Homo sapiens: one gene and its partners. The protein of the gene in region 3 interacts with the protein of the main gene of each other region in a biochemical or structural test. Each region holds a gene or a part of one and is shown on either strand. Other genes may lie near its edges. The genes, in order: KMT5A, DGCR8 and RNF168.

The links.
Region 1: the proteins of RNF168 (region 3) and KMT5A form a complex in vitro, tested with the Homo sapiens proteins (one study listed by BioGRID).
Region 2: the proteins of RNF168 (region 3) and DGCR8 form a complex in vitro, tested with the Homo sapiens proteins (one study listed by BioGRID).

Annotation. Positions count from the first base shown.
Region 1 is NC_000012.12:123,397,503-123,401,151, reverse strand, and holds part of KMT5A (N-lysine methyltransferase KMT5A), read right to left. Parts: intron 1-3,649. UniProt on the Homo sapiens protein: Protein-lysine N-methyltransferase that monomethylates both histones and non-histone proteins. Specifically monomethylates 'Lys-20' of histone H4 (H4K20me1).
Region 2 is NC_000022.11:20,107,678-20,111,326, reverse strand, and holds part of DGCR8 (microprocessor complex subunit DGCR8), read right to left. Parts: intron 2,438-3,649; coding exon 2,324-2,437; intron 1,303-2,323; coding exon 1,219-1,302; 3' UTR 1-1,218.
Region 3 is NC_000003.12:196,493,669-196,497,317, forward strand, and holds part of RNF168 (E3 ubiquitin-protein ligase RNF168), read right to left. Parts: intron 2,804-3,649; exon of another isoform or gene 2,546-2,803; intron 1-2,545. UniProt on the Homo sapiens protein: E3 ubiquitin-protein ligase required for accumulation of repair proteins to sites of DNA damage. Acts with UBE2N/UBC13 to amplify the RNF8-dependent histone ubiquitination.

The DNA of each region.
Region 1 (3,649 bases), on a different chromosome or scaffold from region 3:
AAAAAAAGAAAGATATATATTGGTGGAATAGATTTAAAAAAAACAACAACAAAACTTGGTCAGGTACAGTGGCTCATGCCTGTAATCCCAGCAGTTTGGGAGGCCAAGGCAGGTGGATCACCTGAGGTCAGGAGTTCGAGACCAGCCTGGCCAACATGACGAAACCCTGTCTCTACTAAAAATACAAAAATCAGCCGGGCATAGTGGTGCACACTTGTAATCCAAGCTACTTGGGAGTCTCAGGCCAGGAGGCGGAGGTTAGTAAGCCATAATCATGCCACTGTACTCCAGCCTGGGCAACAGAGTGAGACCTTGTCTCAAAACAAAAAACAAAAAACAAAAAAAAAACTTCAACCAACAGTAATATACCAATGTTGGTTGTTACTTAGCTGTGACAAATTCACCAGAGTAACTTAAGTGAGAGAAGATGGGTAAGGAGTCTGGGGAACTCTCTGTATTATCTTTGCAACTTTTCTATAAAATTAAAATTATTGGCCAGGCGCGGTGGCTCACATCTGTAATCCTAGCACTTTGGGAGGCCAAGGTGGGCGGATCACAAGGTCAGGAGTTTGAGGCCAGCCTGACCAACATGGTGAAACTCTGTCTCTACTAAAAACACAAAAATTAGCTGGGCGTGGTGGCAAGCGCCTATAATCCCAGCTACTTGGGAGGTTGAGGCAGGAGAATTGCTTGAACCTGGGAGGTGGAGGTTGCAGTGAGCCGAGATCGCACACCTGCACTCCAGCGCGGGCTACAGAGTGAGACTCTGTCTCAAAAAAAAAAAAATTGCAAAATAAAAACATTTTAAAAACTTTTTGGCTGGGCACGGTGGCTCACGCCTGTAATCCCAGCACTTTGGGAGGCCGAGGCGGGCGGATCACAAGGTCAGGAGATCGAGACCATCCTGGCTAACACGGTGAAACCCCGTCTCTACTAAAAACACCAAAAATTAGCCGGGCGTGGTGGCAGGCGCCTGTAGTCCCAGCTACTTGGGAGGCCTTTTTAATTATTTTTTAAGATGGGGTCTCACGGCCGGGCTCAGTGGCTCACGCCTGTAATCCCAGCACTTTGGGAGGCCGAGGCAAGTGGATCATGAGGTCAGGCATTTTGAGACCAGCCTGGCCAACGCAGTGAAACCCTGTCTCTACTAAAAATACAAAATCAGCTGGGCATGGTGGTGGGCGCCTGTAATCCCAGGTACTCAGGAGACTGAGGCAGGAGAATCACTTGAACCCGGGAGGTGGAGGCTGCAGTGAGCCAAGATCGCGCCATTGCACTCCAGCCTAGGTGACAGTGTGAGACTCTGTCTCGAAAAAAACAAAACAACAAAAAACCCACAAAAGATGGGGTCTCACAATGTTGCCCAGGTTGGTACTGAACTTCTGTTCTCAAGTAATCCTCCCACCTCAGCCTCCCAAGTAGCTGGTGTCTTTTTTGTTGTTAATTACTCCCCATTGGAAAACAAGCCCTACGGGCTGGTCTAGTTTACTGTGGAATCTCCTGGTCTAGAACAGTGCACACAGCAGGCCCTCAAAGCAACACCACCACCATCACACACATAACCACCTTGCTGTGTGACCCATTCATTGCAAGTGTGCAGAGAGTGCTGAGAAGTACGGGGGCCCATGTAAACGGGAGTGATCATGGAAAGACCGGGGTAGTGGAATGGGGGTTTTTCTGCTGGGACCAAACACGGCAGGTAGGAGATGCGCAGAGGGAAGCTGGGACCAGGCCAGATGCCCCGGCACAAAGCCAGGGAGGCTGAGTCTCCCAAAGGCCTGGAATTTGGGGCCTGCAAACAACCAGCCCTGGGTTTTCTAAAGGGACTTCTGGCAGGAACCCACAAATGGGCCTAGAAGGAGATGGAGTGGGAGGGATACAAGGTTGGAACTAGGGCAGTTGAGAAGCGCCTGTGACCAGGAAGGAGGGGACCTTCCCAAGCGGAATCAGCAGGCTGCTTGCACATCTGGCCCTGGGGCCGAGCTGGGCATGAGGAAGCCCAGCCATTGCCAAGAGGCATGGTCCCTGCCCCGCTGCTGGCTGCCACCCCACCCACAGCCAGGCTGGCCGGCCAAGGGGCCCCTGCAGTGAAGCACTTGGTGGATAGGGCATCTCTCCAAGGCCCACCTTGTGTCCAAATCCAGCAGCCCTGATCCCACCCTGTTGCCCAGGACCCACGCCCTGGCGCTAGGCCCGCCCTGGCTGCTGTCTTCAGCCTCAGTGGAGGTATATAAGAGGCTCTGAATTGCAGTTTCACCCCAGACCATCTGGCCAACAACAGGCTGTATTATGCCCCACCCTCCTGGATCCACAGCCTGGGCCCAGCATGGCAGTCAAGTCAGGACTGACCCCACCCTTCAGATGAGCCCCAGCTGTCCCGTTCTTGGGCTTTATCTGTGCAGTCAGAAAATATTCCACCCTGACCAGCTCTAGCCACGTCATCCCGGCCAGCTATGGCCTCCCTGCCCTGGCCAGCAACAGCTTGCATGGCTGCACTCAGCAGAGCCAACACAAACAGTGGGGGGCAAAGCACGGCTCCCGGTCCAGGAACAGGGCGAGCTTTCTTGTGTTTGCAGACTGTGCTTTAGGGAAGCAAGTGTGTTCTTCCCTTCTGCTCATCTGCTGCAAGATTTAGCAGACCTGCATCCTGTCCCATCGCAGCCTTCACTCTGCCCAGCACAAACTCTTGCTTCTTATTAACAAGGCCAACTCGGCTCCCCCCACCCTAAAGTCCACAGCAGCCCTTGGTGGACGCTCAGCAGAGGCCCTGTGTGTGGGCACACCGCAGCTCCAACCCTGGCTGGGAGGTGTCTGGGATTCTGTGGTCTGGCACCACCTCACCATCTGCAGTGCTGTCTTTTTTTTTTTTTGAGACGGAGTCTTGCTCAGCCACCCAAGATGGAGTGCGGTGGCGCGATCTCGGCTCACTGCAACTACCGTCTCCTGGGTTCAAGTGATTCTCCCATCTCAGCCTCCCAAGTAGCTGGGATTACAGGCACCTGCCATCATGCCTGGCTAATTTTTGTATTTTAGTAGAGACAAGGTTTCACCATGTTGGCCAGGCTGGTCTCGAACTCCTGACCTCAGATGATCCGCTCACCTGGGCCTCCCAAAGTGCTAGGATTACAGGTGTGAGCCACTGCACCTGGCCCAGTGCTGTCTTTAAGAGTGACCTAGCAGGCCGAGCACGGTGGCTCACGTCTGTAATCCCAGCACTTTGGGAGGCTGAGGTGGGCGGATCACCCGAGGTCGAGAGTTCGAGACCAGCCTGACCAACATGGACAAATCCAATCTCCACTAAAAAAAAAAAATACAAAATTAGCTGGGCGTGGTGGCGAATGCCTGTAGTCCCAGCTACTCAGGAGGCTGAGACAGGAGAATCACTTGAACCCAAGAGATGGAGGTTGCGGTGAGTCGAGATCACGCCATTGCACTCCAGCCTGGGCAACAAGAGCAAAACTCCATCTCAAAAAAAAAAAAAAAAAAAAGTGACCTAGCACAGCCTCCCACTGCTGACAAATGTTTTAAACAGCTCATTCTTGGCTGAAAGACATTGCCTTTTTCAGGCAATAAAACCAAAGCTGCTCTCTGTGGGGAAGAAAATGGACCTTTTTAAAAATTTTTTTTAAATGAAGCTTCATCAATTAAA
Region 2 (3,649 bases), on a different chromosome or scaffold from region 3:
CAGACACGGCAGAACGCTGGACTCTTGCTTCAGATGGCGCACCACAAGCACACGGCACTCTGCACAGGTGCCAGTCCACCACCAGGGCCAGCCTTTGAGCACACCCTGGTGCCTCAGACTCCGGCAGGAACACATTTCCATCGCACACCCACCCATAGGGGCCACCAGTCGAGAAGCAAGCTGGGCACCAGGCAGCTGCCTTTGACATCCAGAGAAACCGCTGTCACAGGCAACAGCTCTGGATCAAGAATGGGCTACACTGAAGGCCCTTGCTTCCTGTTTCAACAAGTCCACTTGCTAAAATGCATGATTCCAAATCTACCTTCTACTCTCACTGTGAAAGTCTTTCAAAATGCTAAAATATCACAAAAGCTTTAAAAATCAATGGGTGGACATATGGACTCGACTGCAAAAAATCTTTGTAAAAAACTGTTGCCGGAGGCCAGGAAAGGCAGAGAGGGCCTCAGTGTCCAAAGAGGCGCTTTTAGGGAATTAAGACTTCATCAGAAAAAGGGACCCTAGGAGGCCAGGGTAACTCCAGGAGGTGGCAGGACGTCATCCTTGCTGGCATCGTGTCCAGACTGGAGAGGGACCACCTTGATGGTTTGCCTCCAATCCCAGAAAGCTAGTTCTGATGCTAAAATTCTGTTTAAGCCAAAAAGGTTTAAAATATTCCTTTCTCTTCTACCTTTTCAAAGAAGGGGAAACACAGAGGGTGGGTGAGGGCAGGGCACCATGTGCACCTCCTGACCAGGTCCCTGTAGCAGCCCTGCAGGCGCCCTGGGCACATGGGCCACCTGGCATCACGGGCCAGCCACAGGACTCAGCCATCCCCTCTCATCTGTCATCCAAGCATCATGTGTCGTCAGTGCGTATTACATACTAAAATTCATGAAAGCCTTCATAAAAAGAGCCTGCAGCAGGTGCACAGAAGCAGGGTCCACCACTGTCCACAGTCACCAGCTGCCACTGGTGCAGTCGCTGAGTCCATCCATTCAGGCCTGGAGCTTTCCAGGGAGAGCCGCTGCTCCACATGTGTGCTGTGTGGCCATGGCTGTCCCTGTACACTAAAGCCTCCACCCTAAGGCCGGGCCCACAGGTTGGCCACAGGGAAGGAGCGTGGGTTGGAGGCCTGACACTGTGGTGCACGATGCATGACTGCTGGTCTCCTCAGAAGTGCGGCTGGCGGCCCCCGCGCCCTGGCCCGTGCCACCTCCCTCACACGTCCACGGTGCACAGGGGCTCACCGCCAGGCTGGGCGGACGCCACAATGGACATCTTGGGCTTCTTTCGAGTCTCCTCCTGAAAGAACAACAAAGGTCAGGGGTACCAGTGAGGTGGGCTTGGCAGAGGCTCGGGAAGACACAAGGTGGAGGGAGAGCCCAGCAGATCATGCCAGGAGGCCCTGGAGCCCCAACGGCACCAGTGCTTGTGATGCCAGGCTAGGAGGAGCAGGGAAGGCCTGGGGCAGGCCAGCCTGAGATTGCAGAGGCCCCCTGCATTGCCATCAGAGTACAACATGTGCAGCCTCCCTGGCAATCAGGACATGTACCAAGAAGTGAAGAATTTTGGGTGCAGTTACAGGGACAGGCCAGGCCTCCCCATTGGGTGTTCCTCCCTTGCCCAGCTTTTGCTTGCCCCAGGCCCAGCCAGGAGCACTATGTCCTGCACCTGCTGCCCTTGAGCCCCACAGCCCCTCTTCCGACCAGGGGCAAACCAGGCAGTCCCACTGGCTCCAGGAGGCCAAGCCCCACCCCAGGGAGCAGCAAGGGACCTGCTGGCCTGGGCGGCAGCAGATACCTCCTGGGGCTCTCACCCAGGCCAGGGGACTGCCACACTTAAGAAAGCTCCCACCCAGAAGGCCCAGGTGGGCAGGTCACGCCGTGGCCAGGCAGACGATGCCTGAAGACAGAAGACACCACTGCCAGCCTGACAGGCCCCTCTTTGAGTGGGGTTCCCAAGGTGGCTTTAGGAGGCTTCATCAGGACCAAGCCCTACAGATTCAACCCTGGCAGGTGCACTGACCTACCTCCAAACACCCAGGGAGGACATGGGACTCAGGTGGCCCACCAAGACTGTGACCTTCATGGTCCACCAACAGGCTGGCCTGCCAGCTCTCTAACAACAGAACCAAAACTGAAGTGATTTATAAAACTATCACACATGTCGAAGCTCAAAGAAAAGCCTGTATCTGATTTTGGAAGGAGGATCCAAGCATTTCCAAGGTGTCAGCTCAGGCACGGGTCCTGGGGTCTGCTGTCCCTCCACAGGTGCCACAGGAATGGCCGTGGCCCGGCAGCCCTCCCGCTAGGGTGGCACTCACCCTTTCCTCAGCTAGCCTCTTCATCTCCTCTTGGAGCTTGCTGAGGATGTGCAGGTTGGGCTTGTTCTTCTTGGCATACTGCTGCAGCTCAATCACACTCTTGTCCGATGTCTCCTGGGAAGTATAGCACCTCACGCTCAGGACTGCAGGCTGTAGCTCTACGGCCTGCCCGCTGCCCAGCAGCTGTGTGCCTGGGACCCTGAAGGCAGGCGCGCCCAGGGTCTGGCAGACACGAAACAGCCAGGAGCTGTGGCAACATAACTGCATGCTGACTGGCCCGCCTCAGTGATGCCAGGCCCACTGACAGCAGCAGAGAGCGAGGGGCAGTCCATAGCTGCCAGGCCTTTCTGCCCACACCACGCCACTTATATGGCCTCCTGCCATGGGCAGAGTAGGGAGGTGAGGTGCTCGTGGTGCCCAGAGTCCTCATCAAGGAGTGAAACCAGAGTGTGGCCATAGCCAGTAAGAACAGCACGCTGCAGCCCAGCCCATCAGCCTCAGGCACTGAGCTCTCTGCACACTCCATGAATGCAGAGCAGCATCAGGCTGGCCTCAGCCCCTTCCCGTCTTAGGCCAGCCCCAAGGGTGCTGTGGTTCCTCGGGATGCCAGAGCTCCCCCAAGCTGTGGCTGTGCCTGGCTGGGACCTTTCCCCCTCCTGCTCAGGGAAGTTTCCCACCCCCGGGCCAGAGTGGGGCTTGCCTTCTCTCCCTCCGTCACAGCCAAGGACCATGCACAGCAAGGGCAGAAGCAAGTGCTACCTACATTTCAACTTGCTTCCCAAAAATCTCTCTCAAGTTCCTTAACATGCCCTGGTGGCCCGTGTGAGCCCCCTCACCCTCCCTTATCATGTCCAGAGTAAAGGCCTCTTCGGGGACAGTGCCGAGGCCTCGGTCTCAGGGACCTAAAGGCAGGCCCTGCTCTTGGCAGCTGGCTTGGGCAGAGGGCCCACCCACCACACAGTCCTAGGGCTGCCCCACCTGCAGGCCTAACCCCTCCACAACTACTTCCCCTTCCAATGACCAGGAGGGCAAGAACCCAGAGAGTTTCTGTAATCATTTGAGGAAAATGATTACACTCACCTCCCCATGTTACCCTCCACCCCTCAGGAGTGGGCACTGGCTTACACTGCAGGATGTTGGCCACAACAGCAGAAACAAGACAGATGGTACACATATGCTCTTCTGTTAGAGATGGACCGGCACTGGTACCAGGGAGAGCTACCCTGACACACTCGCTCTCCTTCAAGCAGGGAGAGCTGGCCCTGGCTCCTGAGCCTTTGCACACCTCCGAGCCGGGCGCACCTTCAGCATCTCCTGCCTGGCCCT
Region 3 (3,649 bases):
GCATGTCCCACCACGCCCAGCTAATTTTTTGTAATTTTAGTAGAGACGGGGGTTTTACCATGTTGGCCAGGCTGGTCTTGAACTCCTGACCTCAGGTGATCCACCTGCCTTCCAAAGTGCCAGGATTACAGGTGTGAGCCACCGTGCCCAGCCTTCCATTTGCTATTTCTTTCTTTTTTTAAATTTATTTTTTTTTTTTTTTGAGACAGAGTCTCACTTTGTCACTCAGGCTGCAGTGCAGTGGTGCAATCTCAGCTCACTGCAGTGTCCACCTCCCAGGCTCAAGCAATGCTACTGCCTGAGCCTCCCATGTAGCTGAGACTACAGGCGCCCACCACCACACCCGGCTAATTTTTGTATTTTTTGTAGACGGTTTTGCCCTATTGGCCAGGCTGGTCTCACACTCTCAGGCTCAAGCGATTTGCCTGCCTTGAACTCTCAAGTACTGAGATTACAGGTGTGAGCCCCCGCACCTGGCCTGTTTGCTATTTCTTAAACAACTCTAATTTTATAAGAAATTTGAATATCTCAGTTTTATAGTCTTAAAGTGACTATACAATTTTTGCCATCTGTTGGAAACAACTCTCGACACTCTTCAGTTCTGGTTAACTCTAAAATTTCTGCTGAAACCCACTTCGGTTAAACATTCCTACTCTACTCGATATTTTGCTTCTTCGCAGCAAGTGGTCTTCCTAGGCGGCCAGGACTCATTTAAGGAAATATGTCCCCATGCTTTTTATTTTATTTTGAAGGAAAAATTCAAGTTAGTTAAAGACCTGAATGTATAATACTGGATGAAAAATAAAAATAAATAATAAGCCTTAACTTGAACAGTTGAGCTGTTCATAAAACTGCCCTCCCATCACTGAACTAGACTGCAGCTCCATGTAAATGGCAGTTTCCTTCTCCCAATTAAATGTGCATTCCTGGGCTGGGCACAGGGTACAAAATAAAGAGATAGTTAAAAAATAAAAAGCCCAAAGTTGCTCTGGAAAATAAGCATATGATTTGTGAAGCAGTATGTACATCAGTGTGGCTGGATCATCACCAAGTAGTGTGGCTATAAATGGCAATCAGGGGCAAAGTGCTCACACCTGTGATCCCAGCACTTTGCGAGGATGAGGCAGGAGTATCACTTGAGCTCAGGAGTTCAAGACCAGCCTCGGTAACATAGTGAGACCCTATCTCTACAAAAAATAAAAAAATTAGCCTGGCGTAGTGGTGTGTGCCTGTGGTCCCAGCTACTCAGGAGGTTGAGGTGGGAGGATTGCTTGAGCCCGGGCGGTGGAGGGTACAGTGAGCCAAGATCGCTCCCTGGCATTCCAGCCTGGGCGACTAAGTGAGACCCTGTCTCGAAAATAAAATAACATAAACTAAATTTGCACTTTCTGCCTCAATATTTATTTTGAAAATTTTCAAATCTACAGAAATTGCAAAAATAGTATGATAAACCCCCGTTTAACCTGCATTTAGATTCATGAAGTTTTTAAACTGCCACATTGCCTTTCGTGTGTGTGTGTGTGTATTTTCTGAACCATTTGAAAGTTGCATGATCATAACCCTTCACCAAATCCTTACGTGTCCACCTCATAAGAGATGCTGTCCTTATCTCTTGATTTGATATACAATGATCAAGTTCAAGAAAATTAACATTGATATATTACCCATCATATCAATGATAAAAATTTCACCAACTATCCCCATGTCTTTAATAACAACCTTTGTCCTAATCCATGTTCTAATCCAGGGTCATGCACTGCATTTAGCTGTCATTCTCTTTTAATCTCCCTTTCAACTAGAATGATTCCTAAGGCTTTGCCTTCATGACACTGACATTTTTGAGGTACTAACAACTACGTTTTGTAGAATTTCAATTTGGGTTTTTGTTTTCTCACAGTTAGATTCAGGTTATGCCTTATACTCGTCCTATCAGGAGGACCGCAATGTTTGTTTGTTCCATGGATAACGTTAACTGTGATCACTTCATTACTGTGGTAACAGGCTTCTCGACTGTATCCTTCACCCTTTGTAATTAATAAGCAATCTGTAAGATGATATTTTCAGACTATATGAGTCCTCCGTTCTCCGGCAAATTTTCAAGCAGGGATTTTGGCATCCGTTTGTAATTCTTGCCTGCATCAATTTTTACAGTGACAGTCGCAAACAGAAAGGAAATTTAGACATTCTAAGGCTGATTCTTCCCTACTATAGGATTCTTTTTTGAGAAATCCAAATGTAAAACACACCTGTCTCCGTCACACTAATTCACTTTCAAATACTTCATTTTTTAAAGCTATCTCATATGTGCTTTCTTACAACCTTCCTTCCATAAATTAAAAATACATAAAGTAAATGAGTAGATTCACTTTATGTATTATGTGTTAACAAAGTTAACACAGAAACACCAATTATATTTTTATAAATTATCAATGAACAATACTGAAAATTTTTTAAAATTTACTTAAAACAGTCTCAAAAGCCATAATATAATTAGGGATAAATATTAGTTTCTTAGGGCCACCATAGAAAAGTACCACAAATTGCGTGACTTGAAAATACAGCAATTTATTTTCTCACAGTTCTGGCTAAAAGTCCAAAATAAATGTGTCAGCAGGGCCATGACACTTTTCAAACTTGTAGGGGATCCTTCCTTGCCTCTTCCTTGCTTCTGACAGTATGCTGATAACCTTAGACGTTCCTTGGGTTGTAAATACATCACTCCAGTCCTCCAGCCTCACGTGGTACTCTGTGTCTTTACATCATCTTCCTTCTGTGCGTGTCTGTCTCTGTGTCCAAATTTCTCCTTTTTATAAGGAAACCAGTCATAATGGATTAGGGCCCATTCTAATGACCTTATTTTAACTTCATTACTGAAAAAAATTGAAGGTGACCTACACAAACAGAGAAATATACTATTTTCATGGATACAAGGACTCTGTTGCTGTTTGGATGTCAATTCTCCCCAAATTGTTCTATTAAGTTCAATGCAACCCCAATCAAACTCCTAACAGGCTGTTAGTAGAAACTGGTAAGTTGATTGAAAAATTTAAATAGGCTGGGTGTGGCGGTTCAGGCCTGTAATTCCAGCACTTCAGGAGGCTGAGACGGGAGGACTGCTTGAGGTGAGCTGTTCAAGACCAGCCTGGGCAGCATAGCAAAACCCCGTCTCTACATACAAAGAATAAATATACGGAGGACGGGCACGATGGCTCACGCCTGTAATCCCAGCACTTTGGAAGGTCGAGGCAGGAGTATCATCTGAGGTCAAGAGTTCGAGACCAGCCTGGCCAATGTGGTGAAACTCCCGTCTCTATTAAAAATACAAAAATTAGCCAGGCATGGTGGTACATGCCTGTAATCGCAGCTACTCAGGAGGCTGAGGAAGGAGAACTGCTTGAACCTGGGAGGCAGAGGATGTAGTGAGCTGAGATCACGCCACTGCACTCCAGCCTAGGCAACAGAGCAAGACTCTGTCTCAAAAAGAAAAAAAAAGATTTACTCTAAAGTCACAGTAATCAAGACAGTGTGACACTAATATTAGAATCAACGGATCAATGAAATAGAATAGACCCACATTATTTTTTTTAAAAAGTCTTTTCAACAAAAGGTACAGAAATAACTGATACCCATATGGGAAAAAGTTAACCTC